2 separate regions of the Homo sapiens genome follow, and region 2 is linked to region 1. Evidence: fine-mapped expression QTL. A gene starts in region 1. The other region holds a variant in brackets. All regions are shown on one strand. Distances are from middle to middle.

What was found. PIP is the estimated chance that this variant, and not a neighbour inherited with it, causes the effect.
Region 2: its variant is the best candidate, but not a certain one, in a credible set for the expression of RAB21 in nasal epithelium (TOPMed, PIP 0.73).

What each region holds. Positions count from the first base shown.
Region 1 is chr12:71,753,279-71,756,191 of GRCh38, reverse strand. RAB21 (RAB21, member RAS oncogene family) reads right to left here and starts at 1,329. Exons shown (of 7, transcript NM_014999.4): 1 at 904-1,329. The coding sequence starts at 1,062. RefSeq lists enhancers at 438-627, 1,268-1,557 and a silencer at 1,008-1,287.
Region 2 is chr12:71,725,359-71,728,271 of GRCh38, reverse strand. The region is part of intron 2 of LOC107984530 (a long non-coding RNA gene); the gene reads right to left. Among named protein-coding and RNA genes, the nearest start is that of RAB21, 28 kb to the left of the region's middle. RefSeq lists an enhancer at 1,805-2,913 and a silencer at 2,817-2,913. The variant T/C (reference allele first, on the strand shown) is at 1,590.

The DNA of each region.
Region 1 (2,913 bases):
CCTGGACAATCAGGCTCAAAAGTCCACTAGACTTTACTGCCTTTGACCAAATTGGTAAGTCAAATTAGTAGGATAAATTTCTCCTAATAACATCAAAACTGATTTCTCTGGGAGAGGTGGGGTGAGTACAACTCCCTCAAAGGCCTGGCTTCACTCTCAATCAATGATAACATTTTAACACCTTTCCAATGTACCTGTGGAAGAAAGCCGACCTTTTATTTTACAGGTAAAGAAACTGAGTAACAGCAGCGGCTTTTAGTCTGGGGACCAATTGTTGGCCAGTATTCACTTGATGTTTCAGCGTGGGTCAATCGACCTCGCAGAATATGAGTGACCCGCAAGTCAGACCCACGCAGGCTGCAATGAAACTGCGTAACACGCCTAGGCAAGCGGTCATTTCAAAAAACCTCCAGAGATGGCTCTTTTGCCATTCCTGTTACTCAGGACAAAATGGAACTTGCATAAACACTTAGTCATCAGTAAGCGCTGAAGTTACAAATCACCTAATTCGCAAAATCAAATACGCAGCTAAGTTCCTAATTCTGAAAGAAAGAAAAGGAGCTAACATTTGGAGACTGCAACACTGACACCTGGGACCCAGGAACTGCAGTAAATGGGAAAAAACAGCCCACGGACGGAGACCACAACGTGCGCAGCCACCACGGGGAACACTGGGGACTTTTCAGGGCCCTTCCACTTCCCTCCCAACAGCCTGTCCTCGCGTCTACAGGCTGCCCCGACCTGGTGATTCCCCAGGGCGAATTCGGAAAGGTAAACCGAAGGCGGAGATGACAGGCCTGAGATTTGCCAGCCTACATCCAGGGGACCAGGGCGGCAAAGTTTCCCCAGCCCCGGAGGGGTAGGGGCCCTGAGGCGCCCCCTCCCGCTCCCCGAGGTCCGCACCTGCAGAGTGGTGATGTGCTTGTCGTTAAACTTGTTCTCGCAGTAGCGCAGCACCAGCGACGTCTTCCCCACGCAGCCTTCCCCCAGCAGCACCACCTTGAACGAGTAGGCTCGGCCCGCCGCCGCCGCCCCGCCGCCGCCGCCGCCGGCCGCAGCCATCCCGTCGCTTCCCGGCCGCCCGAGCCCGAGTGTCGCGCCGCCCTCCCGACAGCCGCGGCAGCGCCTTCACAGCCACGGCCGGCTCAGCCCCCACCGCCCCGGCCCCGCCGACCCGGGCGCTGTCCCCACGCCCTCCTCGGGCGAGGCCTGGAAGGGCTGAGGGAAAGTCCGAGAATGAAGGGCCCCAGCCCACCACGTCAGGCACCGGAGGAAAAGCGAAGAACGATCCCTCTCTGCCTCCCTCTAATGGCGTCTCCTTCCTCCTACGTCACACCTCGGGTCACGTGAGCGCCGGTGCCGGGGCGGCCCCTGCGACTAGCCCCAGAAGAACGTGCCTGGACGTGGGCGGGGCTTCTGGGGCATCTCCCGGGGTGGAGCTGGATGTGAGTCGAGCGCCTACTGGCAATCTAGGGCAGAGCCCCGCCGCTTGCGAGCCACCTCTGCTTTTCAGTTGGTGGGAGCCAGCGGGAATAAGGAACCAGGAATTTGAGGCGAGCCCAGCTCTGGTGAAATGAAGGGCAGAACTTCATCGTTTTTGCATGTTCACAATGCTAATGATCTGTCACACCAGAGGTCACTGTAAACCATATCTGCCAAGGTGCCCTTGAATCTCTCTCTGTGGGATCCCGAATCATAGCGCTTCCAAGTTCCTCTGACCGCCTGGTCAACTACTCCATCATCTTTCAAGTCTCAGCTTAAACCGCGTCCCTGACCACCCAATCCTTCCCCCATCCTTCCATTCCCCCACCTCACAAAATTAGGTATTTCTTACCACCAGTATACCTCCTTTACTAGGGCTTTACACACTCCATGGATATTATTAATACTTTGCTAAGTGTTTATCGACTCTCATTAGACTATAGGTTTGTTGAGGGCAAGGTCTGTATAAGAGCTGCCCACCTTTGAATTCCTAACCCCAAGTGCTCTTCAGTTTTTCTGACTTTCATGAAGCCTCTGACGTTCCATGGTACTCCACCTTGAGGTGGCTTGTTCGATGATTGCTTGTTTTTTCTCATCTGCATCCCCATTCTTTTTTGTTTGTTTGTATTGTTAGTTTTGAGATGGAGTATCGCTCTGTCGCCCAGACTGGAGTGCAGTGGCGTGATCTCAGCTCACTGCAGTCTCTGCCTCCTGGTTCAAGTGATTCTCCTGCCTCAGCCTCCCGAGAAGCTGGGACCATAGGCGCCCACCACCGCGCCCCGCTACTTTTTGTATTTTTAGTGGAGACAGGGTTTCACCATGTTGGCCAGGCTGGTCTTGAACTCTGACCTCAAGTGATCCACCTGCCTCGGCCTCCCAAAGTGCTGGGATTATAGGTGTGAGCCACCACGCCCGGCCTGCCTCCAAGAAACCATACTCCTCCAAGAAATCATACTAATATTTCTGAAAATTTACTGGAAACCTGGTGTCAGGTAAACATTTTTTTAAAAATCAAACTTCTTTCACACTTCAAACCAGGTTAAAAAAAAAAAAAGAGGCCGGGCGTGGTGGCTCATGCCTGTAATCCCAGCACTTTGGGAGGCCGAGGCGGGCGGATCACAAGGTCAGGAGATCGAGACCATCCTGGCCAACATGGTGAAACCCCATCTCTACTAAAATACAAAAAATTAGCTGGGCATGGTGGCACAAGCCTATAATCCCAGCTACTCGGGAGACTGAGGCAGGGGAAGCGCTTGAACCCGGGAGGCAGAGGTGGCAGTGAGCCGAGATCGCGCCACTGCACTCTAGCCTGGCGACAGAGGAAGACTCCGTCTCAAAAAAAAAAAAAAAAAAAAAGAGAGTCGGTTAATTCATTCAACAAATATTTAAATGTGCCCACCATATGCCAGGCACTGTGATCAACAAGATAAA
Region 2 (2,913 bases), 28 kb after region 1:
GTGCTATCCTCGGGGATCGTGAGTTCTTGGGAGATCTGGTTGTTTGAGTGTGTAACACCTCCCCACCCACTCCCTCTCTTGCTCCTGTTTTCACTATGTGACATGCAAGCTCCTGCTTTGCCTTCCGCCATGAGTCAAAGCTTCCTGAAGCCTCCCCAGAAGCAGATGCCTGCACTATGTGTCCTGTACAGTCTGCAGCACTGTGAGCCAATTAAACCTGTTTTCTTATAAATTTACCAGTCTCAGATATTTCTTTATAGCAATGCAAGAATGGCTTAATACGGATGGCTAGTAATTTAGTCAAATAAATATTTTGGCATTTGTTGATCTCACTGTATATTTTTCTCTCTTTAAATTGTTATAGTAACGGATTATGTTGGTAGATTTCCTGATGTTCAAACATTATTGCATTCCTGAAACAAATCTTGCTTGAATTTTTTTTTAATACCAGACTACAGTTTTTACTTTTATTTAGAAAATGGATTTTCAATTTATTCTGACATCCTAAAATAAATTGGGAAGTGTTACAATCTAAGTAATACCTTAAAAAAAAGCAATTATCTGTTCTTTAAAAGTTGTCAAAGGCTCTGGTACCAGAGCCTTTTTCAAGTGGTAGATTTTATTTTATCATCTTCATACTGGGCATGGTGGCTCATGCCTATAATCCCAGTACTTTGGGAGGCCAAGGTGGGAGGATTGCTTGAGCCCAGGAGTTCAAGACCATTATGTGCAATATAGGGAGACCATGTCTCTACAAAAAAATTAAAAGTTAGCTAGGGGTGGTGGTGTGCACCTGTAGTCCCAGCTACTCAGGAGGCTGAGGTGGGAGGATTGCTTGAGCCCAGGAGTTCAAGACCATTATGTGCAATATAGGGAGACCATGTCTCTGCAAAAAAATTAAAAGTTAGCTAGGGGTGGTGGTGTGCACCTGTAGTCCCAGCTACTCAGGAGGCTGAGGTGGGAGGATGGCTTGAGCCTGGGAGGTCAAGGTTGCAGTAAGCTGTGACCATGTCACTGCACTCCAGCCTGGGTGACAGTGAGACTCTGTCTCCAAAATAATAATTTAGCCAGGCATGGTGACAGGTACCTGTAGTCCCAGCTACCCAGCAGGCTGAGGTGGCAGGATCACCTGAGCCCTGGCTTATAGATGGCCACCTTTTCACTGTGTCCTCACATAGTAGAGAGAGACAGCTCTGGTGTCTCTTCTTTTAATAAGTCACCAGTCCTATTGGATTAGGTCTCTGCCCTTATTACCTTATTTAACCTTAATTACCTCCTTTTAGGCCCTGTCTCCAAATATAGTCACATTAGGGGTTAGGGCTTCAACATATGGATTTTGGGGAAACAAATCAGCTCATAGCACTCCACCCCTAACCCCCAACATTCATTCCCTTATTACATGCAGAATATGTTCAGTCCATTCCAACAGCTGCAAAGGTATTAACTCACTCCAGCATGATTTCTAAAGTCTAAAGTTCAGTCTCATCTAAACATCATCTAAATCTGATTGCGCTATCATAACAAAATACTGCAGACTGGGTGGCTTGAACAACAGAAAGGTATTTCTCAGAGTTCTGGAGACTGGAATG[T/C]CCTAGATCAAAGTGCCAGTTGGTTCAATTCCTGGTGAGGACTCTCGTGTAGATGACTGTCTTCTCACTGTGTCCTCACATGGCAGAAAGCAAGAGAGAGCTCTGATGACTCTTCCTTTTCTTTTTTCCTTTGTTCTTTTTTTTTTTGAGATGGAGTCTCACTCTGTTGCCAGGCTGGAGTGCAGTGGTGTGATCTCGGCTCACTGCAACCTCTGCCTCTCAGGTTCAAGTGATTCTTCTGCCTCAGCCTCCCAGTTAGCTGGGATTACAGGGGTACATCACCACACCCAGCTAATTTTAGTAGTTTTAGTAGAGATAGGGTTTCACCATATTAGGCAGGATGGTCTCGATCTCTTGACCTTGTGATCTGCCTGCCTCAGCCTCCCAAAGTGCTGGGATTACAGGCGTGAGCCACCAAGTCAAGCCCCCTTTTCTTATAAGGCATCAACCCTATCATATTAGGGTCCCACTCTTAATTCCCTCCTTATAGGCCCTTTTTCCAAATATTGGGGATTAGGGCTTCAATATATGAATTTTTAGGGGACACAATTTAGTCCATAGCACTATCTCTTTTGTAAAGATTGTAATTTTTTACAGAGTACCAATTTTTGGTAACATATTTAACTAAAAAATTATTCATTTGCTTAAGGCTTTCAAATTTGTTGCTGTAAAATTGGCGGTAGTAAGACTTCAAAAGATTCATTAAAAAATGCATATTACAAAAAAAAAACTGTGCACAAATTCCAAAATTTGTTTCCACCGAAGCAAACTTGTACTAACTTGTTATAACATGTGAAAGATACAACATCAGGTTGAAAAGAGCCCCAATCAAAGCAACATGAATTCTCCTAAAATTTAAGCAAGAACAAACATCAAATTTATGGGGAAGCTTGAGTGGAAGAATGGTGAAATCATTGATGCTTTCCAAAAAGTATATGAGGACAATGCCCCAAAGAAATCAGCAGTTTACAAATGGATAGCTTCTTTTAAGATGGGAAGAAATGATATTGAAGATGAAGTCTACGGTGGAAGATCATCCAATTTTTGAGGAAAATACTAATCATGTTTGTGCCTTAACTGAACAGGACTGATGAATAACAGCACAAACAACAGCCAATACCATAGACATCTCAATTGGTTCAGTTTACGCAATTCTGACTGAAAAGTTGAGCGAACTTTCCATTTCATGGGTGCCAAAACTGTCGCACCAGATCAGTTGCAAACAAGAGCAGAGGTGCAAACAAGAGCAGAGCTTTCAATGAAAATTTTAAACAAGTGGGATCAAGATTCTGACGTACTTCTTCAAGGAATTGTAACTAGAGAT